4 linked regions of the Homo sapiens genome follow. The protein of the gene in region 4 interacts with the protein of the main gene of each other region in a biochemical or structural test. Each region holds a gene or a part of one and is shown on either strand. Other genes may lie near its edges.

Region 1 (4,787 bases), on a different chromosome or scaffold from region 4:
GGGCCTGGAAAACCTGGACTTATGCTGTTGTCAGTGGTGGTCACTGAGAGTCAGGAGGTGTGAGTTCCAGTCCCAGCTCAGCTATTTTACGTGCTGCTGGTGGTTCTCCCTTCCCTGGGCCTTGGTCTCCTCATCTGCATAATGGGATTATGCTGGCAACCACTTCACAGGTTGGTGCTGAGGACTCAAAAGTCCAGCACACAGGCAGGGGATCACCATGCTGGAGGGAAGGTACTTCCAAGTAATAAGAGGAATAAAGTGCGGGGTGAAGGCAACACTGAAAACTTGAAACCCCAGGACCGGAGGAGGGTGAAATAAAAACCTGTTTGGCAAAGACAGGCTCAAACCCCCATGAGCTGTCTGGCTGTCTGAGGGCTGGCTGCTGGAATCTCCCCAAAACCATCCCTCGGGGCTCCTTTCTGAGCTTCTCCAGAGCAGAATTGAGGTGTGGAGGAGCATGACGGCCTCAGGTCAGCACACTGTACCATGCACACAGGACGTATGTTTCTTTGGTTTTATTATTACAAACACACCATGGCTCTGTCACAATAGGGAAATCTAAGCTCTACATACCATTTCTTTTCTACCTGGACAGGGCCCCATAAAAGCCTCCAAGCCACGTGTAGATGTGAGACACATTTGACAGAACATTTCAACTCATAGCTTATAATGATGCCATTTCTCCAGCTGTGCAAGGGCTTTACAAAAACTGTGCCAGGACTTCCCATGAGGCTGGATTGCTTGATTCATGTTTTATGAGCCCCACAATACTGAAGCTCCTTTTCCAGGGACTTGGCATAGGCAGTCAATTCCACATTTGGGATAGGTCCTCTCTGGAAGTGAATGTCAGGCAGTGACATCCAAGTTTCTGCATGCAGTGGGTTAACAGCCATGTTTAGGGGGAACATGATTTAAAAAGTACATCTCTCTCCCTCCTCCCCCACATGCACAAGGCTCACATCTCATTATGGTGCGGCCCATGTACATTAAAGTGTGATACTTGGTTTTGAAAACATTCAAACAGTCTCTGTGGAAATCTGAGAGAAATTGGCGGAGAGCTGCCGTGGTGCATTCCTCCTGTAGTGCTTCAAGCTAATGCTTCATCCTCTCTAATAACTTTTGATAGACAGGGGCTGAAAAAGAGAAGTTGGTAACGTCAAATAGGTGCAGATCTCCCCATGTCTGTCTAGGACACTGTCAGAATCTCAAGGACCAGGGCCAAGCAGCCTCCTTCTGCCATGCTCTCCTGCACATAGCAGGTGCTTTGTGGTTTGTGAAACTTCACTCTTTACTCAAGGCCCGATGTTCTGGTTTTCTGTACCTATCAACTTGGAACTAGATCCTCACCATGGGTTCCTGCCAAGCCCTTTGCAATATTCCCAGACTTCCTAAGCTGAAAACTCACCTTAACCCTAAAAGGTTGTTACTCTTATTATCCTCATCTTACAGAGAAGGAAATGGGGTGCTCTGGGTCTGACCCCAAGTCACCCTGCTGTTCTGACTCCAAAGGCCAGGCTTCTTTTACTGCACCATGATGTTCTTATCTATATACAGCAGATGGCAGGCTTGGGCTTGCTTGGGGGTAAGGCCTAAACAGGTCTGCAATGACTTCAAACCCAGACCAGACTCACCTAGTCGCACAGACCTCTGGGAAGCCTGAAAGAAAACACAAGGTGTCAGGTTTTCTAGTGAAAGTTATACCTGCAACTGCTTATGACAATGGCTTTGCCCATTGCCACCCCTACTCAGAAAAAATGCTGGGGCGAGGAAGAGGAAGGGGAAGGTGGAACTTATAGGCACCAGGGAGTTCCTCAGGTGGCCTTGGCAGACATAAGTTGTGCAAGCCCCTATCAAGTGTGCCTTCAGGTGGACATTCCTAGGAGACCCCCAAGCCAGGCTTTCCCACTGAGACTACAGCCTAGAGTTGAGGGAGCTGGGGCTGCACAGAGGTGGCCTCAGGAGTAGAAGCTCAGGGCCAAGAATCCTTCTCGAGGGCACTAAGGAGACCCCTGTGTACAAAAGTAAAGTGACACAGTAAGCTCCAGGCCTCTGGGTTTAGGATGGCTCCCTGCAGCCTCTCCTCTTGAAGTGCAATCTTTCTGTAAGGCACTTCACATTCCCAAGAGGCTCCACCTGACCCGAAGTAGCAAAAGAGCCAAGTGGGGCACTGAGCACTGGGCAAGCTGGGGAGCAGGAAAGGAAGCTCAGAAAGAGCCAGAGAGGGTTTGAGAGGGAGGTGGGGCTGGGGCAAGGAAGGGATGGCTCCACACACATAGCGAGCCCAGTATCCCTGTATCCAGAATACATACAGTGCCCAGGAGAGCCCCAGCCTCACCCAGGATGGGCAATGCCATGGACAGCAGAAGAGTGACCCAGAGGCCCCGGCTCAGGGCAGGCCTGGCCACTGTAAGATGAACTTGGGATGGGCTGCCCTCTTGGGCAGATGGCTTCCAGAGCTATGTCTGTTCTCTCCAGCAGTGACTTCCCCATGATCTGAGGCTCAGAGGCCTCGGTGTGAAAGCCTGCGCTTTGGCCCATGAAAGCCAGGGAGTTGCCTTGGTTCTTTACTCTGAATTTGACACAGGCTGGGGCTGAGGATGCCTCAGTGGGAGTGGGGAGAAGTTTTAAGAGAGCCCTGGGGAGCAGCCAAGGAAGACAGGGGCTGGAGAGGCTCCTCTATGGCCCAAACAGAGGACCTGAGGCTGCTCAGGCTAGGCGCAAACCTAGCAGGCATCTTACCCTGGAAAACGCTGATGCTTGTTTGAAGATCTCAAGCGCAGAGTCTGCAAGTTCATCCCCTCTTTCCTGAGGTCTGTTGGCTGAAGAGGAAAGAAAAGGCAGGTTTGACCAGAGTGAAACCATTAGCATGTCATTCATAACAACCGTGACTGAGGGGCACTGGTGGGCTTTCTGGCTCACATTTCCAAAGACATGTTTTCTCCATAATGTTTCATAACTCATGGTAGAACTTGGCCCATGGGGAGAGAGCACCAAGAAAGGTGAATGCACACATGAGGAGAGGCAGGACTGAGGTTCAACTGCACTGGAGGCAAGGAACATACACTGAGGTGAGATGCTGTAAGAGGAGTGCTGGGAATCGCGCGGACAGCATCCACGCGAATACAGAAAACTGGGCTGTGTCCGAGGGGAGCTAATATAGCTGGGCAACTCCGCAAAGAGCAATGTGTCCTCACATTCCTTAGTGTGGTGCATTCAAAACCAACAGCTCCCAATTCACTCTGCAATCAGTCACATAGGCACAGTTTAACTATCACAATTACATGTTATTCTCATCATTGTTTAGAACAGTTTTTCTTCTCTCCACCAACTGCCACATGAAGAAAAGGACTGGCTGCAGAGTCAGTGGGGATGCGACACTTACCTGGAGGCTGCAGAACATTGGTGATGACATGGACCACGCCATTTGTGGCCATGATGTCAGGCTCGGCAACAGGCTCCTTGTTGACACTCACCACATTGTTTTTCTAAAAGAAAAACAGAGTAGTGGTTGAAAGTAGAGCATTTATTTATACATTTATATATTTATTTTATTCATTCAGCAAGTGTTTACTGAACAGTTTTCGTTTTTTTCCTTGTTCTTTGTTTTTGAGATGGAGTTTCAATCTTGTCGCCCAGGCTGGAGTGCAGTGGCATGATCTCGACTCACTGCAACCTCCGCCTCCTGGGTTCAAGTGATTCTCCTGCCTCAGCCTCCAGAGTAGCTGTGATTACAGGCATGTGCCACCACGCCCAGCTAATTTTGTATTTTTAGTAGAGATGTGGTTTCACCACGTTGGCCAGGCTGGACTTGAACTCCTGACCTCAGATGATCCGCCCACTTTGGCCTCCCAAAGTGCTGGGATTACAGGCATGAGCCACTGCACCCGGCCTACTGAACACTTTTCATATGCCAAGTCCTGTGTTAGACTGGGGATACTCTGGTGAATGAAACAGTCCCTGCCCTTGACAGACCTTCAGTGTGGTGGATTAATTCAAATCTCCTGTGTGGATTTAGCACTTTGCAATTTACATAATGCTTTTTTGTGTGATCCACTCAGTCCTCACAGCAGTGTATGATAAGGAGAGTAGATATTATTGTCCCATTCCACAGAAGAGGAGACTGAGACTGAGACTGAAGACAGGCGAAGTGCCTCTTTTAAGCTAAGTAGGTGGAACAGCTGGAAATGGAAGACAGGCTTCCTGCTCTGGGCAAAAGGCTCTTTCCATTTTGCCTGGGTGCCTCACTTAAGATTTTCTCATAGGAGGCCCACCCAGGGCAAATCTATCTCAGGCCTTCCTGAAGGGCCATGTGACAAACTCAAGGGGGTAGGAGGCACAGAAGCCTGTGACAGACAGGACCCCAGCATCTGAAACCAGGTGCGAGGAGATTCTTGAATGACCTGCTAAAGTCAAACAAGTCATCCCCGTGCCTACCTCCCTACATGCATATCTTCCTATGCTCCTCGTGAGAAACTGGTGAGCAATGGATGGCTGAAGACCAAGAGAGAGGAGCAGAGAGTAGAAGCCAGCCACACACTGAAGAGCGGTCCCTCCACAGAGGGGTCAGTGGCCTCTGCAGGTGCAGCCAGGGAGATTTCTGGAGCTCGGCTGGCTATCTGCTTTAGGAACACTCTTAGTGCAGTTACAAAGTTATATCATCAATGTGCAGAGCAAGGGAAGGCTCACAGAGCAAGTGTCAGAACTCAAAAAGCCTCTTGGGATGGTCTGGTTCATGGTACAACTCAGTGAAGCCCTGGGTTTGGGGGGTGGGATGGTGTGAGTACAGA
Region 2 (7,000 bases), on a different chromosome or scaffold from region 4:
CTGGTGTCCACTGCACCTGCCCTGTGGGCTTCATGCTGCAGCCAGACAGGAAGACGTGCAAAGGTAAGGACTTTGAGAGGACAGAAGCAGAGTGACCTTTGGTAAGGGGCTGAGGTTGGGACCAGAGATAGGGTGCCTATTAGGGGATGACACCTCCTCAACCTCCTTCTTATGAAGAACCCAGGACATAGCTAAGGGTTGTCTCCTATCTGCCTGTTTCATCTCAGTTCAAGGGACAGAGAAGTCCAGCCAGTTCCTTAGTGCCCCCTTCCCCTACCCCACCTTGTTTCCCTACTCTCATTCCTATCCCCCATGGGTCCCTAACCCTCTTAGTTAATGGACATGCGATTCACATTTGCTCCTGGGTCTGGAAGGATATTTGAGCCCTGACTGTGTGTGTGCATGAGGTCACAGGTGTGTTCCATAACCTTCTTACCCCACATTCCTCAGACCTTCCCAGTGGGCTCTGGGGAAATGATGTCTACCCCTCGAAAGGCTGTACTGGTCAAAGGGAGAGTAGGATACTAGTTAGGAGGACTGAAGCTGGGTTCAGATCCCAGCCCTGTCTCCTACTAGCTCTGTGATCCTGGACAAGTCACTTAATGTCTCTGTGCCTCAGTTTTCCATAGTGCTCGCCTCATACTGTGTTGTGATTAAAAGAGTGATTACATAAAAAGTACTTAGAACAGTGCTTGGCAAATGGAAACACTTTGTGTTAACTGTTATTACAGTATAGTTACCCACATTATGCATTCTGTTTCCCTTCCTTTTAATTAGCCAGGTCTGAGGGAGAATGGGGGGAAAGGGTGGAGGAAAAAGGCAGGGTAGCCATACTGAAAATGATGATTCATTAGGTCCATATCCCCTGGTCACAAGGAGTGGGGACGAGGAGGACTGGGCTCGTTCTTTGTGTCTTTTGGCCCAACAGCTGCGAGAGGAGGGGGGAGGCTAGGGCAGCAGGTCAGCCAGCCAGAGTTGAGAGGTTTCCTGCTGGGAAGAACTGTTGACAGGTATGCTAAGAGTGAAGTGAAAGGCTGCCCTCCCTGCCCCTTCCCCCAACCAGGGGTGAGTAGCCTGGGTCCTGTCTGCCACCAGCTTGGGGAACTTGACCTCAGGAAGGAAGCCATTCACCAGCCCCCCTTTCCCTTACTAGTGCTGAAAGCTGCCTCAGGCCTGAGTCTCTCCAGATCTCTCCCAGTCCAGCCCCTTGCCTGGCCCCCAGCCCTCCCCCATCAGCTACCCAGCCTCACTGGCTCTCCTGGAGGTCCTCCCTGCCTGGCCTCTTTCCCAGCTCCTCCTCCTCCCTAAAGGGCTGCCCGTTTTCAGTGAGTCCCTTTAGACCCTCCACCTCTCCTTGCCCCGCACCCCCCCAACCCCCCGTCCTGAGGGACAGGAAAGAGATAACCCTTACCCACCAACCTTTCAGGGAATGGCCATCAGCTGGAGACTAAGGGCTAGCCTGTTAGGTCAAATGCCCACCTGCCCCTCCTCTAGGTAATTCCCTGAGGGCCTGTTCCTAGTTTTGGTTCCAATTTGTCCCCTTATAAGAACACTCAATCCCAGAAGAGAGGGTGTTACTAATGGCCACAGATCCCCTGAACAGGGAAGAAACAGAGACAGGAAAGAGAGAGAGAGACAGGAAAGAGAAAGAGAAAGAGACAGAGAGAGATCAAGAAGAGGCAGGCCCAGGACTCCTTGATTTTTGCATGTCTCTGTCAGTGAGGGAGGGATCTTTCTCCTTGTTTGTTCTCAGCCTTTGATAGTATCTTTTATCCTGTTTTGTCCTCCTTCTTCAGATATAGATGAGTGCCGCTTAAACAACGGGGGCTGTGACCATATTTGCCGCAACACAGTGGGCAGCTTCGAATGCAGTTGCAAGAAAGGCTATAAGCTTCTCATCAATGAGAGGAACTGCCAGGGTGAGCAGACTCAGCCAAAGGTGAAAGCCTTAGGAGAGGTTCTTGTGGGAGAGCTTCAAGGAGGCCAGAGGGCTAAAGTCTTAGAAACTCAATAGATATCACACAGAGTCTCTAGAGGCAGTGTCATCCTGCAAATTAGCAAATGGTACTCTTTCCCCTCAGCGGACTAGCTCCATATCAAAGCATTCAGCCTGGCAAGGACTGAGGGATGGATTTCACCCCAATTCATATCCTTGGCAGAGTAGGACGTACCTAACCACACATGGTGGGCCCTGACCTAAAGGCACCAGATCTTGCAGTTCCTAATTCCAAGGACTTCAAATAGAGGGGGCAGAGAAGATGGAATGGCATTGTTAAATCACTGGTCCTAGAGCTAGGACATGAATAGGAACTCTTCAGTTCAAGGGGGAAAGCCAAGGCCCCTCACTTGGGTCCTTCACCTGAGCAAGGGTCAAGTGCTCCAAGACAGATTCAGTGGCTTGAATCTTTGCTCTTCCAGATATAGACGAGTGTTCCTTTGATCGAACCTGTGACCACATATGTGTCAACACACCAGGAAGCTTCCAGTGTCTCTGCCATCGTGGCTACCTGTTGTATGGTATCACCCACTGTGGGGGTAAGCTAGTAAGCTTGCACCCCCAGCCACCCTGGCCCCCTCACCTCTTCACCCTCCAATTGAACAGGTCCTTGTGTTGGCTTGTGGCTATGGGCAATCCCTGGATGCATGCACCATGTCTGCATCCGCTGTGACAAAATAGGAGGAATTAAGACAGCTTTTGAAGAACTGGGAGACTGCGGAAACAGCATCCTGCCTCCAAAATTCCTATCTCCCATTCCTATAACTGTCCCTGAACCCCCACTCTCAGCTCCCAAATGACAGTCTCACTGGTTGGGAGGAGTGGAAGGCTTTAAAAAGCTTGTTGGCTTGGCCCCTTCTCGATCATTCCTTTGGGGACAGAGATAATTGGAGGAGGTTTGAGCTCTTCTCAGGCCAGTAGTCATCTTACAGTGCCTAGAATGCCTTTTTAACTTTTTTAAATTGTAAGAATATTTAACAAGAGATCTACCCTCTTAAGTTTTTAAGTGTACACTACAGTATTTATGTGCCTATAGGCACACTGTTGTACAGTAGATCTCTCGAACTTATTCATCTTGCGTAATGCAGGGTACCTGAAACTCTAACCAAAGGCCCTCACTCACTGCCTACTCTCCGGCTCCTCCTCCAACTCCATCGTTGTTTTTCTGTCTCCCTACTCCTTCCCCCAGATGTGGATGAATGCAGCATCAACCGGGGAGGTTGCCGCTTTGGCTGCATCAACACTCCTGGCAGCTACCAGTGTACCTGCCCAGCAGGCCAGGGTCGGCTGCACTGGAATGGCAAAGATTGCACAGGTGGGCAGTGCCCTCTGCTGGCCAAAGATGACACTGCCATTTCAGGGAGCAGTTGGGGTTCTGGAAAGCATAGAGTATCACATTGGGGAAAGGTGTGAGGTGGAAAGGGTGGAGAATGTAGCCATTTTGAGTTAAAGACATGAAATTTGTAGTAAACAATCCCATCATCAGTCTCCATGGGTACAACAATAGTTATGCAAGTAGCTGATTCCTCCAAATTACCCAACTGAGGGAAAGGAATGCATTCATTTGCTCAGGCCTCTCTCCCCTTCCTAGAGCCACTGAAGTGTCAGGGCAGTCCTGGGGCCTCGAAAGCCATGCTCAGCTGCAACCGGTCTGGCAAGAAGGACACCTGTGCCCTGACCTGTCCCTCCAGGGCCCGATTTTTGCCAGGTACATGGGAGGAGGGTGCTGGAGAGCTTTGGAGGAGAAAAGAGGAAGGACTGGCCGTTCAGGCAGCTCCTTCATTCCCCCTGGATTCCTCCAGCCAGCGGGGGTTGGGAAGGCAGGTCAGAACTGTGACAGGCTCCTTTTCTCAGAGTCTGAGAATGGCTTCACGGTGAGCTGTGGGACCCCCAGCCCCAGGGCTGCTCCAGCCCGAGCTGGCCACAATGGGAACAGCACCAACTCCAACCACTGCCATGGTAAGCACCAGCCCAGAAGCCCTGTTCCCACCCTACTCTCTTACATTAATCCCTTATTTTTGTTCTTCATCAATCCCCTGGCCTTCCTTTCTCCTGGATCCTCTTTTTTGCCCTGTAATTCTCCAACCCTGCTCCCTCACTCCCTCTGCCCTAACATCTGATCCCCTTGACTTTCATAATCTCACTCCCCCAGCCAAGCCCCTGGCTTATTACCCAGCTTCTCAACAACCCCTACGGCACCCCCGACCTCCATGGGCATCCCATACTGTGCTGAGTTTCTACCATCCCTCTAGAGGCTGCAGTGCTGTCCATTAAACAACGGGCCTCCTTCAAGATCAAGGATGCCAAATGCCGTTTGCACCTGCGAAACAAAGGCAAAACAGAGGAGGCTGGCAGAATCACAGGGCCAGGTTTGGACTGGGGACCCCATTCCAGTTGGCTGTCTGGCCACTAAATCCTCCTTACCCCTCAGCTCCTCTGCTTCCAAAAACCCACCAGAACCCTGAACTCTAGGCAGAGCAGAGGAAAAAGCAGCTGTAGGCATAGCACCCAAGGAAGTCCCAGAATATTCCCCTCCACCAACTAATTAGGACCCTAGACTAAAACAGGATTGAGAGATAGTTACAGTTAGAGATCTGGGGAGGTCTGTCTGGGCTGGGAGTGAGAACTTTCCAGGGGATGTCCCTGGGGTTGACAAGCCCTCTCTCCCAGGTGGTGCCCCCTGCTCTGAATGCCAGGTCACCTTCATCCACCTTAAGTGTGACTCCTCTCGGAAGGGCAAGGGCCGACGGGCCCGGACCCCTCCAGGCAAAGAGGTCACAAGGCTCACCCTGGAACTGGAGGCAGAGGTCAGAGCCGAAGAAACCACAGGTGGGACTGGGGGCACTGTTGGGAAGAGGACTGGAAGGGGAGGGCAGAGGTGGGGAAACCACAGGTCTCAGCAGCAAAAGGAAGGGATGGAGCCTGTACTAGGGGCAGACCCTGCCTGGTGCCAAGCCTAAAAGCTAGTCCCTCTTACCATGCCCCTCCTAGCTCCCAGCTTTGCTCCCCTGCCCTCCTGCTCACAGCAACTCTTTCTCCTCCCTGATACACACGGCCATCCACCACCAGCCAGCTGTGGGCTGCCCTGCCTCCGACAGCGAATGGAACGGCGGCTGAAAGGATCCCTGAAGATGCTCAGAAAGTCCATCAACCAGGACCGCTTCCTGCTGCGCCTGGCAGGCCTTGATTATGAGCTGGCCCACAAGCCGGGCCTGGTAGCCGGGGAGCGAGCAGAGCCGATGGAGTCCTGTAGGCCCGGGCAGCACCGTGCTGGGACCAAGTGTGGTAAGGGAGCTTACTGGGGAGCAGGGATGTAGGAAAGACCCAGTTTGGGCCTGACTCAGAGCAGGACCCTTTGTGGCCTCAGATGCATTTCTCAAATTATGAGGCAGCCAGGATGCTCCTGCCCGCTGTCCTCCCTTCCTTGGTTCCAGGCTGAAATCTAGAAGGATGCCAGGTGGGGCCAGCAATCCTCCTGCACACGGTTTTGACCCTCCTATCCCCCCAAGTAGGATTGTGTTTGTTCCCTGACAGAGATTCTCCCTGAATCGGGGGTTGTGGCGGGGAGTGGGAAGGGGAGTCCCAGGCCTGGGTGGTGGGAAATGCGGGGGTGGGTGGCTAGCGCGGCCGACTCTCCCTCAGTCAGCTGCCCGCAGGGAACGTATTACCACGGCCAGACGGAGCAGTGTGTGCCATGCCCAGCGGGCACCTTCCAGGAGAGAGAAGGGCAGCTCTCCTGCGACCTTTGCCCTGGGAGTGATGCCCACGGGCCTCTTGGAGCCACCAACGTCACCACGTGTGCAGGTGCCAGGGGAACAAACAATACAGAGTGGGGTAGGGTGGGCACTGGGATGCCCATGGGCATGGGATTTCCCAAAGGGCAGGCCCAGGCTCCAGGCCACTCTCTTAGTCAACATCCTGTTTGTATACCTTTGTCCCCTGAGATCGGGTGACCCCATGGGGATGACTCAGGACCATCCCCATCAGAGTTGGGCCCTTGATTCATTGCAGGTCAGTGCCCACCTGGCCAACACTCTGTAGATGGGTTCAAGCCCTGTCAGCCATGCCCACGTGGCACCTACCAACCTGAAGCAGGACGGACCCTATGCTTCCCTTGTGGTGGGGGCCTCACCACCAAGCATGAAGGGGCCATTTCCTTCCAAGACTGTGACACCAAAGGTGAGTAAGCTACTCACCTCCCTGGGGGATGCCCCAACCCCAACTACTCCCAAAAAACTCTCCAATTTCCCAGAGGGGACACTGACCCACCATTTTCTCCAAACCAGTAATGGGCCCAGCTACTTGACCAACCATACCATCCTGCTTCCAGGACCCACCCTGCCCCTCCACTAGTCCCAAGCTTGGGAACTGAGAAATAATTAACAGTCCCACTTACCCCTCCACTTTGGAGAACTGGTGGCATATTCTCCTCCATATCCCAAATGAGTTTCTATATAGGTTTGGCACTGTGCTCAGCGTCTGAAAGAAAAGGATTGGCACTGTAGCCAACCACTCTGTAAACTCTGTTTTTCCGTGGGCTTAAATTCTGGCATGACTGGGAAAGATTGAGACCCTAGAAAAGAACTTTGATGTATCTGATCTCCTGATTCTCCAGGATGAATGTATCCTGTCCATCCCATGCCCCGTAACTCCCACCTGCCTACCATCTTGATTCCTGCCCTTCTCCCTTGCCTACAGTCCAGTGCTCCCCAGGGCACTACTACAACACCAGCATCCACCGCTGTATTCGCTGTGCCATGGGCTCCTATCAGCCCGACTTCCGTCAGAACTTCTGCAGCCGCTGTCCAGGAAACACAAGCACAGACTTTGATGGCTCTACCAGTGTGGCCCAATGCAAGAGTACGTGGCAAGCCAGGCTGTGCAAAAGGGAGGAGAGAGGCCTGGGAGCAGTGGACATCTAAAGGAGGGGTGTGAAACCAACAGGGAGCAGGGCTGGGGGGTGGAGGAGCAGGAAAACTCCACCTTCCACCTCTCCCCAACTCA
Region 3 (8,873 bases), on a different chromosome or scaffold from region 4:
ACAGCCCGTGAGGCACTGTAGGAACAGCACAGGGCAGAACAGCCCGTCCGGGACACCCACCTCCCCACCCCCGGCTCACACTGGCCAAAGATCCAGACTGACAAATGACTCAGACACACAAACGCCCGGGGCTAAGAGGAAACACGGCATGGCCCGGAGGTTGCAGGGGGCAGCACTCACAGGGATGGGGCTTTCTGCTATGCCTACCCCTCCACCCAGCCATGATCAGTGGCCTGAAATGGTGTCATGGACCCCCTCCCATGTTTGAGCACTTGCTGTATACCAAATTCTTACAGATATGTTTGTACTCTTAAATGGTTATGAAGATCCTGTCTTCATAGGACGAAACCAGGGATTCTAGGGGTCAATTACTGTTGATGTCACCATCCTTCATTATTATTAGATAATCTGGCCAAACTCATACACTAATCAACATCAGTCCCCATCACAACCACAACAACGACTGCTGACCCTTCCGAACCCACTCCCAGCCTGGGGGGTTGCAGAAGCACCGAGTTCCAGAATTTCAGCCTCCCTCCCACAACGTCCAACGCACCCCCTCGAAGCACAGCCTGTCCTTCTTTTGAGCTGGCTCTGTGTGATGAAGGGACACCCAGCAAATGGCCCAGACCCATGGGCATTCGATCTATTTTCGGTTGCAGTCCCTTTACCTCTGACACCTGTGCCTGCGCCAGACCCCTTCCTTTCCTGGCCGGCCATCCGAGGGGTCCCTGGTGGCCTCTGGGAAGAGAGGAACTGCAGAAGTCCCTTTCATTTTCCAGCTGAGGTGCTGGCTCTGGGCCGATGCTGCCGGGCACCCCACAGGAGGTAGCCGCCCTCTCTGGCTCAGTCACCAGCACGAGGGCAGGGCCACTCCTTTGGGGCTGCTTGTCACGGGTGCCCTTTGCCAGCCTCCAAGGACATCCTTCCTTCTCTGTCCCTCTCCCCTGTCCTCAAGCCCCGTCCCATTTTGAACCTCTGCATAGCAGGATTCAGATTCCCTTCCAAGCGCATCAGAACTAAGGCTAGCTCTGGCTGGGCATGGTGGTTCACGCCTGTAATCCCAGCACTTAGGGAAGTCGAGGCGGGAGGATCACCTGAGGTCAGGAGTTCAAGATCAGCCTGGCCAAAACGGAGAAACCCCGTCTCTACTAAAAATACAAAAATTAGCCAGGCGTGGTGGCGCGTGCCTGTAATCCCAGCTACTCAGGAGGCTGAGGCAGGAGAATTGCTTGAACCCGGGAGGCGGAGGTTGCAGTGAGCCAAGATCGTGCCACTGCACTCCAGCCTGGGTGACAGAGAAAGACTCCCTCTCAAAAAAGAAAACAAACCACCAAAAAAGAACTAAGGCTAGCTCATCTCACCAGTCCTTTATGATCTAAACCAGTGCTGTCCCCGGTGGCAGCTGCTGGCCACATGTGGCTAATGGAGCACTTGAAATGTGACAAGTCCAGATTGAGACGTACCCTCGATGCAAAATACACACCAGTTTTAAGACCTGGTACAAAAAAGAATGCAAGATATCTCAATAACTTTTATTTTGATTGGATGTTGAAAGGATTATACTTTAGATATGTTGTGTTAAATATATTACTAAGAATAGTTTTACTTATGTTTTCTTTTATTTCATATGGCTACTAGTAAATTTAAGATCATAGGAGGGGCTGGATGCGGTAGCTCACACCTGTAATCCCAGCATTTTGGGAGGCCGAGGCGGGCGGATCACCTGAGCTCAGGAGTTTGAGACCAGCCTGGCCAACATGGTGAAATCCGGTCTTTACTAAAAATACAAAAATTAGCTGGCAGTGGTGGCGGATGCCTGTAATCCCAGCTACTCGGGGGCTGAGGCAGGAGAATTGCTTGAACCTGGGAGGCAGAAATTTTAGTGAGCGGAGATCACGCCACTGCACTCCAGCCTGGGTGACAGAACGAGACTCCGTCTCAAAAAAAAAATCTGAACTTTGTCTGGATAGCGACGGAGGGTGTCTGAGCAAAGCACGATGTTCTCAGAGCCATCCAGAGACTGGGAACTCTGTCCTACCAAAATGGGTGCACCCAGAGGAGCTGGAAGATAGAGATGCCCTGTGGGTGACTCATCTGGTTGCCCCTTGGTGGCACTGAGCCAGGCAACAAGCGGGAAAGGCTTGTCAATGATAACGGCAAGACCAACGATCACCAGGCAGCCAGGTGCACCCGGTAGCCCTCTGTGGGCAATTCTGCATGTATGACCTTATTTAGTCATACAGCTAGGCAAGGAGGTGACACTAAGCATTTGAGTACTGATGGGGTCTTGAATGAACAAGTAAATGAATGAATGAATGGATGGTGGCCGATGACTGTCATCTCTAGTTCTTACATTATGTATCTTATGCATCAGACTACACGGCATGGATATTCAGTGCAATGGATTTGATTGTGAATTGAGGCCCCCTTTTGCAATCTTGTTGCATGTTATGTTCGTGGAGCTCCTGCAATGAGCAGAGGCTGCTAAGCAGAAGCAGCGCACAGGCTGGGGGCAGGACACAGGGCCCCCGGCCTCAGGGGAGAGGTCTGTTCCAGCCACCTCAAGTCTATTCCTGTGAGTGCCCCTCCACACCCCTCCTGGATCCCCCCACTGCAAACTCTCTCCCCCTGGCTCCGGACTCTCTCCCCGTCCTGGAATTAATAAAGACTCTGTGCAGACTGCGGTTTGCAAGTCTGAAAGCTGGTTCCTGCCCGTGTCACTGCCTCGAGAAGAGAGGGGTCCAGCTCCCCACAGTAGCCCCTGCCTTCCTCCTTCCCAGGCAGGCGGAGGCACGCAGATATACCATTGACTTCCCCTCCCCTGCAGCAGGCACATCCTGGGCATCGAGCTTCAGACCCTGCCCCTGAGCAGCCCCTAACCCCACCAACAAAGGGTGGCTTGGGGGGGCTTTCACCCCAGCATAATCTCCATCAGCTACCCTCAAAGCACCCCCAAATAAACACACACCGTAAGTAAGAGCTGTACACTGGCTGTGTGCGTACATCTTCAAGACAATTCTCCCAGCATGCCCCTACCTTCCAAAATTCCAGAGCTGCTCCCTCCAAAGACCCAGGGAAAAGGAAGGGTTTGTCCAGGGTCCTGGGGTGGCCCCGTATAGACCAAAGCCTGATAGCTGTCCTAGAAGCAGAGTACTTGCAGAGCGAGTGACGGCAACTGTGGTATTGACACCAGTCCTAGCACCAGCTGAACACAGAGCATTTTTGATCTAGCAGAAATACAAGACCACGTTGTATTTGTCTTTGCAATAATCTCTTAGCTAGGAATACTGATCACCTGTAGACAGATAAGGAAACTGATGCTCTGTGGAGAGGTTTTCCTACCAGAAAGGCTAGAGCCAGAAATTTACTTCTAGGTCCACCAATACCTGCCTTTGACCAATGCCTGCATTTGACCTTTCCACGCTGAGCCACCCCTGCTGGCACTCCAGACTGCCACAGTGCTCCTGCCTCCACAAGGGGTCTTTAACTCATCCCTCGGAGCCATCGTGGTGCAGGGAAAAGCCCACAGGGCGTGTGGCTTCCATGCTGTTCCCTGACTGGCTGTGACCTAGGACAAGGAACAAGTTTCCCTCTCCTATTCTCTAGGTCTCACATTTCTTCTCCTCTAGCAGTAGTGGGAAGTGAGGGGTGGGGGACACGACCCTCCCCTGTTCCATCCCACACTCCAACCCCCAAAATCCCCCAGGGTCCCCGTCCAGCTCAGTCCTGGGGGCAGAAATGCAGAGTTCTCCAGGAACGTGGTCCCAGCTGTTTCAGTGCAGGCCGCCCCCTCCTGGCCACCAGCGGAATGTCAGCCTTCCCAGAGGGGCCGGGAGAACAGCAGTCGAGAAGCTCCCAGACTGGTGTGGGCGCTAGCTGTGCTCAGCGTGGGGATGGGAGGTGACCCAGTGATAATGGGAAGCTGGGCTGCCTGTCAGTCTGCGGGGGGCTCCCACCTCCCTGTTCCCCCACAGGGCACCTGGGGATCCAGCCTGATTTTTACCAGACCCTGCGGCCTGCATGGGGCTGGGTATAGGGCTGTGACCTTGACCCATGCAGAATAGAACCCTGTGTGTCGGGATCCTCCATGTGCTCCAGATGCCCCTGGGGACAGCACCAACATGGCCTTAACTCCCAAGCCATTCCCCTGCCTCTAACCCCCTGGCATCTGCAGGCATCCACCCCAGACCCACCCAACACCTCCTCCCCAGCTTCAGGCGCTAGGCAGAGACCTTGGCCCCTGCAGAATGCAGCCCTGTCCAGGGTCCCCTACCTTCCCCCCAGATCCCTCCCAGAGCAATACCAACCCGGGCCTACCTTCCAGGCCATTCAACCTGCAGCCCCCCGGCCTCTGTAGACATCGCACCCCCCAAACCCCCAGACCTGCCCAATGCCTCCCCTCCCCAGCTTTGGGCAGAACCTGTCTCTAGCCAGACCTGGGGGTGTTGGGGAGTCTGGAGGGCCGGGGTGGGGGCTGAGGCGCGGGACAGCTGGCCCGTATCCTCACACTGGGCCCGGGGCCCAGCCGGAGGGGCGGGGGCCTGGCCACTCGGGCCTTGGCTGGGGCTGGGATTTTTGGCCTGGCCGCCAGGCCCTCCCTTCTGCTTCCTCTCCCGAGGGCTGTCCTGGCAGAGGCCCCCCTCGCTCTTTCTGGCGGGAACAGGGCCAGCAGCGAAAGAACAGTCGCAGAGGGAAAGCGGGAAAGAGATGGGGGAAAGTGTGTGTGTGTGAGTGTGTGCTTGTGTGCATGTGTGTGCGTGTGTGTGTCAAGGAAAAAAGCTCGCAGTCCAGCAGCCCGGGCCTGGGAGGCTTGTGAGCCGGGCCTTTCGTAATTGTCCCCTCCCCGCGGCCCCCTCCCCCAGGCCTCCCCCCTCTCCCGCCCTCCCGCCCGCCCTCTCTCCCTCCCTCTTTCCCTCACAGCCGACGAGGCAACAATTAGGCTTTGGGGATAAAACGAGGTGCGGAGAGCGGGCTGGGGCATTTCTCCCCGAGATGGCGGGTCTGACGGCGGCGGCCCCGCGGCCCGGAGTCCTCCTGCTCCTGCTGTCCATCCTCCACCCCTCTCGGCCTGGAGGTAAGGACCCCTCGCCCCTGTCCCCAGCGCTGCCCACAGCTGCGGGCCCTTTGGGCCAGGTGACTAGACGCTCAAGGGGGAGACCTTCGTCCCTGGGAACTGCAAGGGGTCCCAGGTGGGAGCCCCTCAGCCACTGGGTCCTCGGAACTGCCCCTCCCAGGAGCCAGCCCCGTGCCCAGGAGGAACCTGTCAAAGAGACACCCTCGACTCAGAATAGTCCCAGCCCAGCATCCAGGCTTTGCTGCCCTGCGAGGGCTGAGGGGGCCCCTGCTCAGGTGCCCGGGTGCCCGCCCTGTAGGGGGATCAGAGCATCCTGGGGGAGGGCCCAGCGGGAACCCCTGGGTCTGGAGACACCACAGTCTGCACACCTGTGGACACAGCTGGGGTGCACACCAGCCCTGGGGACAGGGAACCTGGGCTTGATACCAGCTCAACCGCAGTGAGCTGTGTGACCTCAGCAGGTTCCTTGACCCCTGGGAAGCCGGGATCCCCCCGTCAGGAAGGTCAGGGCTCCGCTGAGGATGGGTTTGCAGGTTGGGAAGCTGCTGCTGTGTTCTCCCTGCTGAGGCAGGCAGGGACTCCTGGTATGCATTTGTGTGTGTGTGTGTGTGTGCATGCACACAGGAATGAGCGTGCTGTGTGCTCGTGTGTGTATGTGTGCATGCACAGGTGTGCATGTGTTCAGATGCCCGGCTGTGTCACTGAACAGGGAAAGGGATTTCTGGAGGGGTACATATGTCTGCTCACAGGTTCATCCTTAGGCAGGTGTATGCGTATGTTTGGAGGAGGTATATGAAGCTGCTCCTTAGTGTGTGCAAAAGTCTGCCACCTGACAGACATGTAGACATGTACACATGTAGACATGGGCGATCTGGCATCCAGGTGTGACACTGGTGTGGACTGTCACTGTGTGTGTTATGGAGTGTGTACATCTGTGTGTGTGAATGTGTGTGCGATGTGGCACGCAAGCATGGAAAGGCGGGCTGGAGAAGGTGTCTGTCTCCTGGCAGAGGCAGTGTGGCTGAGACAGAGGCTGGAGTGGATCCTGGGGCACTGCTGGGCCATCTGCTATGTGCCCCAACCCAGGCACAGTTGGTTATGGGGTTTGAGGGTGTGCCCTGTGGGGCTGCTATGCCGCGGCCAACGGGGGAGGACAGAAGAGGCTCCCGGGCATGGGAAAAAGGAGGGCATTTGGTAGGGGGGTCTGGGTGGAGTCTGGTTTCCTCGGGAGTCCTCCTTGCCATGAGAACCAAACGCTGAGTGGGGGGCGGGAGGGCCACGGGGTGGAGTCAAGGGCCTGGGCAGGAGCTGCAGCTGTTTCCGTGAGATTGAACAGCTTCCTGTGCAGGGTCCGCTGCTGGACCTGGATGAGGCCAAGGGACATGGGTACCCACAGGCGGGCCCCAGCAGGGGCAACGAGCCAGGGCCTGAAAGCAGCAGCCCCGGGTCCGTCTCAGCCTCCTCCCCAGGTGTAGCCCCCAAACACCCAGCCACCCTTCTTCCCAGATGGGGCCACCACCTATAGGGTGGCAGTTCATCATCAAGGAACCTTGAGAATTAGAAATTATTATCATCACTTGACAAACAAGGAAGCTGAGGCTCCGGCAGGCTAAGGCAGTCCCCGGGGGTTAGTATCAGCCAGCTCTCTGCCCCAGGTCAAGGGGCAAGGGGGTTAGGAGTGAGCTAGCAGGCAACATTTGGGGAGGGGAAGGCTTGGGGCTGAGTCCTTAAAGCAGGCATGCCCTAGGCAGAATCAGCTCTCTCCTTGTGTCCTCAGTGACACCGCTAAACGCCCAGCTGGCCTCACACTTTGCAGAGATCAATCTCAGCTCTGTCCCAGGTGGCTGGACTTGCTAGGTCCAAATAAGGGGTGTGTGAACTGATGAGCTCGTGTGGGGTTTTGCACAGAAGTGCTACTGAAGTCTGCAGAGGTCGGGGAGCCAACACAGGGAGTGGAGCGCTCAGTCACATGCTCACTGCCACTCACCTGGCTGTCCTGGGGGAGCCTGGCTTCTCCCTCAAGGAGGAGGGTGTCACTTATGCAAGTTCAGCGGCTCCAAGGAAGGAACCCTGTTGCGGGGGTGGGGGAGCAGGAGGAGGGGACAAGCCGCACAGCTCCCAGGCTGTTTCAAAAGTGAGCATGAGAAATTAACCCAGGGATAATTCTTCCCCATCCCCCAGAAATAGTATCAGGGATTTTTTTTTTTTTTTTTCCTGATTTCAGAACTGAAGATGGTTTGGAACAGAGGTTTCCTTTTCTTTTATTTTCCTTTTTTATTTTTATTTTTTTACCTTTTTTATTTTTTTTAAATTGAGACAGGGTCTCGCTGTGTTGTCCAGGCTGGTCTGAATTCCTGGGCTCAAGTGATCCTCCCACCTCCGCCTCCCAAAGTGCTTGGATTACAGGCATGAGCCACTGCCTCTTTTTAAATATTTTTTTAATTATTGTTTTCCGTCCTTAAGTAGGAACAGGGGTTTTCAACCTGGCTATCTATTAGACTTCCCACCCAAGAATCCCTGCTTGCTTTGGTTGGAGAGGGACCTGGACACAGACTTTTCAGGCTTCCCAGGTGACGGTGGGGTCGCCAGGGCCAAGAAGCACTGGTTTAGAGGTCGATCCCGCTCTGTGTGTCTGCCGAGGCCCCGGCATGAGGGCAAATGTGCCCTGTGTGGGAGGGGACACAGTCACCCAGTGGAGGACAGCTTGTTTTTGAAAACCCTTGGCAGCCTTCTGCATGCAAACAACAAACAGCTTCGTGTGGTCTTATCTGCTCCCCAAGCCAGCCCCCTGGACTTTGGTTTGGCAAAGCCCCCTGCCAAGATCGGCTGGCCCCAGGCTCGCTCCCAAACAGGCTGCTTCCAGCTCTTTGAACCTGGAGCCCAGGGCCCAGGCAAATGGCCCTACATGTGACTTGGGGTCAGCTGGGGGTCCCAGACCAGGCTCTTCAGCTCACTGGTTCTCCATTTCCCTGGCTGCAAAATGGGGAGAAACAGCCCTGCCTGAAGTACCTCCTAGGGCCAGTGAGAGCTTCTAGCAATGTAATATCTGGGGGGAAAAAAAGCATCAAATAAAAGGACCGTGGGAATGGGCATTTTTAAAATAATCTATTCTCTTATTCAGAGTCTGCTAATTTGGGCTCATGGATCCTTGTAATTAGTGCACATTGCTAAGGTTTAATACTCCCTCTCACTACTTACACCATGTTTTGTCTAGTGGAGGGGCAGCTAATGTGTAAATAGATGTGCAATGATGAAAGAAGCAGACAGGACTCGGTTGGGGGTGGCCAGAAGGAGCCTTGAGAAATCCAGGAAGGCTTCCCAGCAGAAGTGACATTTGAGTTAAACCTAAAGAGAAAAGTAAATGGGGCCAGGTGCAGTGACTCATGCCTGTAATCCTAGCACTTTGGGAGGCCCACATGGGCAGATTGCTTGAGCCCAGGAGTTTGAGACCAGCCTGGGCAACATAGGAAGGCCCCCGTCTCTATTTAAAAAATAAATGAATATTTAAAAAGAAAGAAAAAGAAAGAAAGAGAGAGAGAGAGAGAGAAAGGAGAGAGAGAGAGACAGAAAGAAAGAAAGGAAGGAAGGAAAGAAGGAAGGAAGGAAGGAAGGAAGGAAGGAAGGAAGGAAGGAAGGAAGGAAGGAAAATGTTGGAGGACCTGTCTGTGGATGAGGGGTAAGTCCCCAGACTACAGGCCCTGGCAGGCAGAACTGAAGAGACAGAAGAGCAGATTCTCGATTGGAGGAAGCCCTGTCTGCAGTTAGTGCTGACAGCATTTGGAGGTGGTGATTTTCC
Region 4 (6,891 bases):
GAGATGCTATTTAAGGCTGTGGGCTACCAGACATCACAGGGAATGAGTATACACAGAGCAGAGGATTCCCACGATTGAGCACAAGGGTGCCTCTGTCACCAGAAGAGGAAAATCCACCCAGTGAGGTAGGAGGAGACCCAGAAGTAAGGTTCCAGAGGCCGAGAGTTTCAGGAAGAAGGGCAGGATCCACTGTGTCAATGTGGGGAGAGTTGGTGTGGGATGAGCAGAGAGGAGCTCCTGTCACATCTGGCTACAAGAAGGTCATAAATGGCTTTGAAGAGGGTGACTTTGGTGGTGTAGTGGGGTGGGAGCCAGGCTGGAAATGGCTGAGGAGAGAATGGGAATTGAGGAAGTGGAGACAGTGAGTAGAGACCATGCTTTTGGGAAGTTTTATTGTGAATAGGGATAGGAAGGTAGAGAAATAGACTAGTATCTAGTGGGAGGCAGGGGTTAAGACAGATTGTAAACAAGCCATGGCGGGGAATGTTTGTACGCCAAGTGGGAGTGGGTCATTTGAGCAAGAAACAGATGAAAGAGGAAGCTCAGGAGGGCAGTTTTCTGGACTCCTACTTAAATTCCCACGTGGGCCCTGATCAAACCCATCATCTCCACTCACGGGCCCCAATCTTTCAGTCAAGTCCCTTTGCTAACCTGTAAGGTCAAATTCATATTCAGCTTGGCATTCAGGACTTCTCTCATCTAGCCCAAACTAGCACTGCTATCTTAACCATTCTGGAATCCTCTCCATTCCCTCTTAGCCACCTGCTACTACCCCATGCTGGAGTTCTGAGCCATTTGAAGTTCTCCAGACACCCACTGCTTTTTCTCTTCTTTTTCTCTTCGTGCACTTGCACCAAGAACCCACATTCAAATCCCACTCTTATCACTCACTAGCTATGAGACTTTGGGTGAGTTGTATAACTCTCTGTGCCTTAGTTTCCTTATCTGTAAAACAAGGGATTGGTGATGGCAGTAATAATAGTACATACAAAGTAATAGGAGTACCTATCTCCTCTGGTTGTTTTGTCACACAAAATGCACATAGAACAGTGCCTGGCACATAGTGCTGTACCGTGGATAGCTACTAACGTCAGGTATATGATCCATATTTTATTTATCCACTGACTTACTCCTGGGCAGCTAGGTTATTGCCAGTTTTTCACTAACAAACAATGCTGCAATCAACATCCTTCTATGTGTTGTCTTGTGCACACATGTGAGGGTCAGAAAGTAGTTACATTTTTAGGTTTAGTGGTTCTTGGTAAATTACCCTGTAAGAAGATTGTCCCTTGCACAGGAAGAAGCTCGTTCATCCTTTCTGATTCAGTTCCGGTTCAGATGTCATCTTGACTGAGAAACGTTCCTGGACCTCAACCACAACACAGACACACACACATGTGCACACACACACACCATTATTGTAGAATAAAAGATCATGCACTGCACACTCCCCAAGTGTGATCCCACCGCCACCAGCCATAGAATCACCCTTGTAAATAGGTCAGACTCTCTGGAGGTGGAGCCTGGAGTTGCATTTTAAGCAAGTTCCAAGGGGAATCTTATGCATTCTAAAGTCTAACTCATTTCTCTATCCCCATTGCCCAGTACAGGGCCTGGCTCCATGTAGGGGCTCAATAAATGTTTGATGAATGAATAAACAGGTTGATCATTTCCTTGACTGTAAAATAGAAATAATCACATCATACTTTCCTAACAGGAATGATTGAATATGTTAACATTTACAAAGTGCCTAGAACACTATTTTTTTTTTTTTTGAGACGGAGTCTTGCTCAGTCACCCAGGCTGGAGTGCAGTGGCGTGATCTCGGCTCACTGCAAGCTCCACCTCCCAGGCTGGAGTGCAGTGGCGTGATCTCGGCTCACTGCAAGCTCCACCTCCCAGGTTCAAGCCATTCTCCTGCCTCAGCCTCCCAAGTAGCTGGGACTACAGGCGCCCGCCACCACGCCCGGCTAATTTTTTCTATTTTTTTTTTAGTAGAGACAGGGTTTCATCGTGTTAGCCAGGGTGGTCTCAATCTCCTGACCTCGTGATCCGCCTGCCTCGGCCTCCCAAAGTGCTAGGAGTGAGCTACCGTGCCCGGCCTAGAACACTTTCTGGCACGTAGAAAGCACTCTATCAGTTATTTGTTTTTCCTTTTTTTTTTTTTTTTTGCACTCTATCAGTTAAATACATACATGCATACATACGTGCATACATATATAAATAAAGTCTGCTTCTAAAGGTTAGAGAATCCAAGTTTATTAGAAACACTCCAACAAAAAACAAAGGTGAGAAGAGAGGGCCCAGCCCACCTCCACTCCTCCCTTTCCTCCAGAACAGAATACCAGTTTGTATCCGGCAAACTGGCTCCTTCCCCAGGGTTGGTCCCAGTGGGGATTTACATGGCACTGCCAAAGCAGGACGGGAGCCCTAGTCCTCAGGGCACTGCAGGATGTCATAGGTCACGTAGCCCACTTGGTCCACCTGGTTCAACTCACTCCGGGAACTCACGCGCCAGTAGAAGCGGTCCTGGCAGAAATAGGCTTTCTCTGCAGGAGACAGGCAGGCATAAGAGGAGTGATTCTAATTCTCCCACATATACAGAAATAGGAACAAGATCTTGACAACCATCTCTTCTGCCATTTCTAGAACTTTCTAAGGTTTTCACATATCACCTCCATCCCCCCAACCTGTGAGATGCTGTGAGGTTCTGTGAGATGCTGGAGGGCACAGACCTCAGTGCCCAAAGCACTGCCACAGAGCCTAGCACACAGTAGGTACACCATACACATTTTGTGAATGAATTAACAAATGAATAGACCAACTATCTTAATGCTCAGAACAATTCATTCAACGCTCATTCATTGAACAAATCTGTTCATTCATCATTTACTGAGCATCTACTATGTGCTTTGTTCAAGATACTGGGGATAAGCAGAAAAAATGCAGGCATGATCTCAATTATCTTGGTGCTTACACTCTAGTGAGGCAAGAGACAATTAAGCAAACACATAAATAAATGAGATTGGTTTTGAAAATATAGAAAGCGGCTGGGTGCGGTGGCTCATGCCTGTAATCCCAGCACTTTGGGAGGCTGAGGCGGGTGGATCACGAGGTCAGGAGTTCAAGACCAGCCTGGCCAAGATGGTGAAACCCCGTCTCTACTAAAAAATACAAAAAATTAGCCAAGCGTGGTGGCAGGCACCTGTAATCCCAGCTACTTGGGAGGCTGAGGCAGGAGAATCGCTTGAACCCGGGAGGCGGAGGTTGCAGTGAGCTGAGATCGTGCCACTGCACTCCAGCCTGGGCGACAGAGCAAGACTCCATCTCAAAAAAAAAAAAAAAGAAAAAAGAAAAAAAAAGAAAATATAGAAAGCTATGGAGAAAATAAAAACAAGTAAATAGATAATAAGCATCAAAGAAGGCCTCATTGAAGCAATGGCCTTAGCACTGAAACCTGAAGGAAGACAGTGGGATGGCCCAGTGACAATCTGGAGGGGAAGCTTTCCAGACAGAGGGAACAACTGGCACAAAGGCTGTAAGCTAGGAATGACCTTGATCTGTTCAAAGAGCAGCCAGTGTGGGTGGAGCAGAGTAAATAACAGGAGGAGTGGGAAGAGATGAGAACACGGGGGTGGAGTGTCAGATCCTCTTAATTTCTTTGACCTTGGAATTCATCTGGGGTCACTCCCAAGACCATTGCCCTTCACTCCTACCCCCTCTCTAATCTCATGGAATTTGTTAAAGGTCCTGGACAGCCAGTATGGTTTGGGCTGGGGTGTTTATAAAGAAGATGGCAAAAAAAATGACAGACTCGAAAAAGATTTTGGTGGCAGGAAATCTTGTTCACCTTGTCAACTGTTTGGATGTGACTGGTAAGAAAGGGAAGTCAAGTGTAATTCCAGCTATAGTCCCCATATTACAGATGGGGAAACTGAGGCTCGAAGAGTAGAGAAGCAGTGACTTGCCCAAAGTCACAGAGCTGTGAATTGTCTTATCTCTCCCTGTAGCACAGTGCCTGGCACATTATCGGCACTTGATGACTGTTGTCTAATAACTGAGCTTCCATACAAACCACCTGCCGTCCTGTACTGAAGGAGAAAGAGCTTCCAGCCGGGGAGGCAGGAAATCTGGGTCCTGGTCTTGGTTGCATCCCTGACTTCCTAAATGACCTGGAGAAGGCCTCTGCCTCTGCTGGGATCTTGTCTGTGCTGGGGCATTTGTTTCCATTTCCAAGGGCTTTTTCTTCCTCGCTCAGAATTTGACCACTCACTAAGAGGAGCTTAGTGTGGTGTCTCACGAAGGGATCCTCCTCAGCCCTCACCTCGGTACTGGAAGACGTCGTGCGTGTCCAAAGGCACCCCGGGGAACATCCGGTCCACCTCGCTGGCGCTCCGGGGATCCACCATCTGCGCCTTCACGTCGAACCTGCGGGCAGGCGCGGAGGAGACAGGTGCTGAGCCGGCTAGCGGACGGACCGACGGCGCCCGGGCTCCCCCTGCCGGCGGCCGCGGCGGCGCTCACCTCCAGAGGCGCCGCCCGCTGAACAGCAGCATCTTCCCCCTGCCACTCCGGAGGGCCCCGGTCACCTGGGCCACGTCGGCTCCCAGGCCCAGCTTGTCCAGACGCCTCGGGCCCAGCACCGACGCGCCTGTGTACACCCACACCTGGCGCCCTGCAGGGGAGGAGGGTCACGTCGGTTTGGGGGCGCAGAGGGAGCACGTACTCCTAGAACGCGAGGAGGGAGATTCCGGCGAGGCCTTTCCTAGCCCGCGTGCCCGCAGTCCCTGCAACCCAGGGGCAGAGGCGCTGGGTAGAGCGACGCGAGGGCGTGGAGAGGAGGGGGCAGAAACTCAGCCGCCCCTACGTTTGCTAAACTGCGTCCGCCAGGGGGCGTATTTTTCTAAAACGCACAAGACGTTTCGTGGGTTATCGATGGTCTCTTGAGCCTCCTTGACTGATGGGGATTGACCGGGCGGGGGAGGGAAAGTAGGTAACTAACCAGAGAAGAAGAAAAGCTTCTTGGAGAGCCGCTCCTCAAAGACCGAGTCCAGCTTGCGGGGCAGCGCGGGCCACTTGTCGGCGATAAGGAAGGGGCCCTGCGGCCGGCTCCCCCTGCCCTCAGAGAATCGCCAGTACTTCCTGAGAAAGCGAGGAGGGAAAGGACGGGCTCTAAGCCTTGGACACAGGGCCAGTGGGCGGGAAGGGACGGGCAGCCCCTCCGCAAAGCCCCCTCCCGCATCCACACAACCCCGCCTCCTCACCCATCCTTGAACAAATACAGCTGGTTCCCAATCTCCGCGATGGCGTCGAAGATGTTCACGTTGCAGGCATCGTCCACCGGACTCAAAGGCACAGTAGTGGCCGTAGAAGGGCCAGCAGTGGGGGGACCTGTGGGGCCAGCTGAGGGGGGACCTGTGGGGCCAGCTGTGGGGCGCTCTGAGGGGTGGACAGTGGGGGGTCCGGTGGGGCAGACCGTCGGGGGAGCCGTGGGCTGCGGTGTGGTGGTGGTTGGAGGCCGTGGCTCAGGTTCAGGGCGAGGACCTAAAAAGAGACACGGGGTGAGACTCTTCCTATTCCTGCATACCTCTGTACCCCTAGAACATCTGCTCCCCTAAGCTTCTCAGTGAAGCCTCCTCTGGCACACAGGCCCCTCCTCACTCAGCCTCCCTTCCCAAACCACAGGACTTTCTTCTTCTTCTTTTTCGTTTTAAGCGACATCCTCTATGGCCCAGGATGGAATGCAGTGGTGCAATCATAGCTCACTACAGCCTCGAACTCCTGGGCTCAAGAGATCCTCCCACCTCAGCCTCCAGAGTAGCTAGGACTACAGACATGTGCCTTCACGCCTTGCTCATTTATTTTTTGTAGAGATGGGAGTCTGGCTATGTTGCCGAGGCTGGTCTGGAACTCCTGGGCTTAAGCAATCCTCCCGCCTTGGGTCTCCCAAAGCCCTGGGATTAGAGGCGTGAGCCACCATGCCCAGAGTAGACTGGCTTTTGAAGTCACACCTATCTCTCTCTAGAGTCTCTTTATCACCACCTCTAAGCACTGACATGGCAGCGACTGGGCCCAGGCTCTGCTTCCAGACAGACGTTGAGGTCCCACCTCTCCTGCACGCCCCGTTCCTCCCCCGATCCCCAACCCCCAATTCTTTGGTACTGTGGCACAGCCACGCCCTTTCCCCTCCTCCTCCCATCCCTGCCCCTGCCTCACCATAGAGGTGCCGGATGCCATTCACGTCGTCCTTATGCAAGGGGGGCCCCTCAGTGAAGCGGTACATAGGGTACATGAGCGCCTCCGGCACTGAGGAATGATCTAAGCCCAGCGCGTGGCCGAACTCATGCGCCGCCACGAGGAACAAACTGTATCCTGGAGGGAGAGGGAGCCTGAGACGTGAGCGCCGGGCCGAGCCCCCAGCCCTGGCCACCCCACCACCACCACTGCCGGGAACCCCAGCCCCGGAGCCGCGGGACCACGCCTACCTTGGTCCGGGCAGAAGCCCCACTTCTTGTCGCTGTCAAAGTTCGAGGTGGTAGCGCACCAGAGGCGCCCATCTCCGCGGCCCTCGCTGGTACAGGTCGAGTACTCCTTACCCAGGAAAGTGAAGGGGAAGACGCACAGCTCCCCCGCCGAGTTGCCCCCCATCACCGTCGAGTCAGCTGGAGAGACCCAAGGCCTTGGATGAGCCAGATGGATGAGTCCAATAAGGAGTCAGGGGCCGACCCGACAGGGAGCTAAACAATCTTGGTGGCCTAGGGGGCGCTGTAGAGCACTCCTGAGAAGAGGCTAGACCCGTGGGCGGTGCCTGGGACACCAGACCAAGGAAGAGGCGGCCAGCTGGGCAGAAAAGGCCGAACCTTAGTGGCTGGGGCGGGGCCATTGGAAGTC

Evidence for each region.
Region 1: the proteins of MMP9 (region 4) and TGFBI form a complex in vitro, tested with the Homo sapiens proteins (one study listed by BioGRID).
Region 2: of the proteins of MMP9 (region 4) and SCUBE3, one has a biochemical effect on the other in vitro, tested with the Homo sapiens proteins (one study listed by IntAct).
Region 3: of the proteins of MMP9 (region 4) and ELN, one has a biochemical effect on the other in vitro, tested with the Homo sapiens proteins (one study listed by IntAct).

The regions. Positions count from the first base shown.
Region 1 is NC_000005.10:136,059,532-136,064,318, reverse strand, and holds the end of TGFBI (transforming growth factor-beta-induced protein ig-h3 precursor), read right to left. Parts: intron 3,486-4,787; coding exon 3,383-3,485; intron 2,820-3,382; coding exon 2,740-2,819; intron 1,657-2,739; coding exon 1,632-1,656; intron 1,134-1,631; coding exon 1,093-1,133; 3' UTR 501-1,092; downstream 1-500.
Region 2 is NC_000006.12:35,237,956-35,244,955, forward strand, and holds part of SCUBE3 (signal peptide, CUB and EGF-like domain-containing protein 3 isoform 1 precursor), read left to right. Parts: coding exon 1-63; intron 64-752; exon of another isoform or gene 753-1,796; coding exon 1,797-1,919; exon of another isoform or gene 1,920-2,418; coding exon 2,419-2,535; exon of another isoform or gene 2,536-3,185; coding exon 3,186-3,311; exon of another isoform or gene 3,312-3,587; coding exon 3,588-3,704; exon of another isoform or gene 3,705-3,850; coding exon 3,851-3,955; exon of another isoform or gene 3,956-4,248; coding exon 4,249-4,365; exon of another isoform or gene 4,366-4,666; coding exon 4,667-4,825; exon of another isoform or gene 4,826-5,065; coding exon 5,066-5,281; exon of another isoform or gene 5,282-5,638; coding exon 5,639-5,800; exon of another isoform or gene 5,801-6,007; coding exon 6,008-6,175; exon of another isoform or gene 6,176-6,475; intron 6,476-6,694; coding exon 6,695-6,856; intron 6,857-7,000. UniProt on the Homo sapiens protein: Is a positive regulator of the BMP signaling pathway, required for proper chondrogenesis, osteogenesis and skeletal development. It acts as a coreceptor for BMP ligands, particularly BMP2 and BMP4, facilitating their interactions with BMP type I receptors.
Region 3 is NC_000007.14:74,023,193-74,032,065, forward strand, and holds the start of ELN (elastin isoform a precursor), read left to right. Parts: upstream 1-4,980; 5' UTR 4,981-4,995; coding exon 4,996-5,077; intron 5,078-8,873. UniProt on the Homo sapiens protein: Major structural protein of tissues such as aorta and nuchal ligament, which must expand rapidly and recover completely.
Region 4 is NC_000020.11:46,011,908-46,018,798, reverse strand, and holds the end of MMP9 (matrix metalloproteinase-9 preproprotein), read right to left. Parts: intron 6,663-6,891; coding exon 6,486-6,662; intron 6,373-6,485; coding exon 6,217-6,372; intron 5,545-6,216; coding exon 5,265-5,544; exon of another isoform or gene 5,143-5,264; coding exon 5,003-5,142; exon of another isoform or gene 4,676-5,002; coding exon 4,525-4,675; exon of another isoform or gene 4,429-4,524; coding exon 4,325-4,428; exon of another isoform or gene 4,011-4,324; intron 2,550-4,010; coding exon 2,431-2,549; 3' UTR 2,238-2,430; downstream 1-2,237. UniProt on the Homo sapiens protein: Matrix metalloproteinase that plays an essential role in local proteolysis of the extracellular matrix and in leukocyte migration. Could play a role in bone osteoclastic resorption. Cleaves KiSS1 at a Gly-|-Leu bond.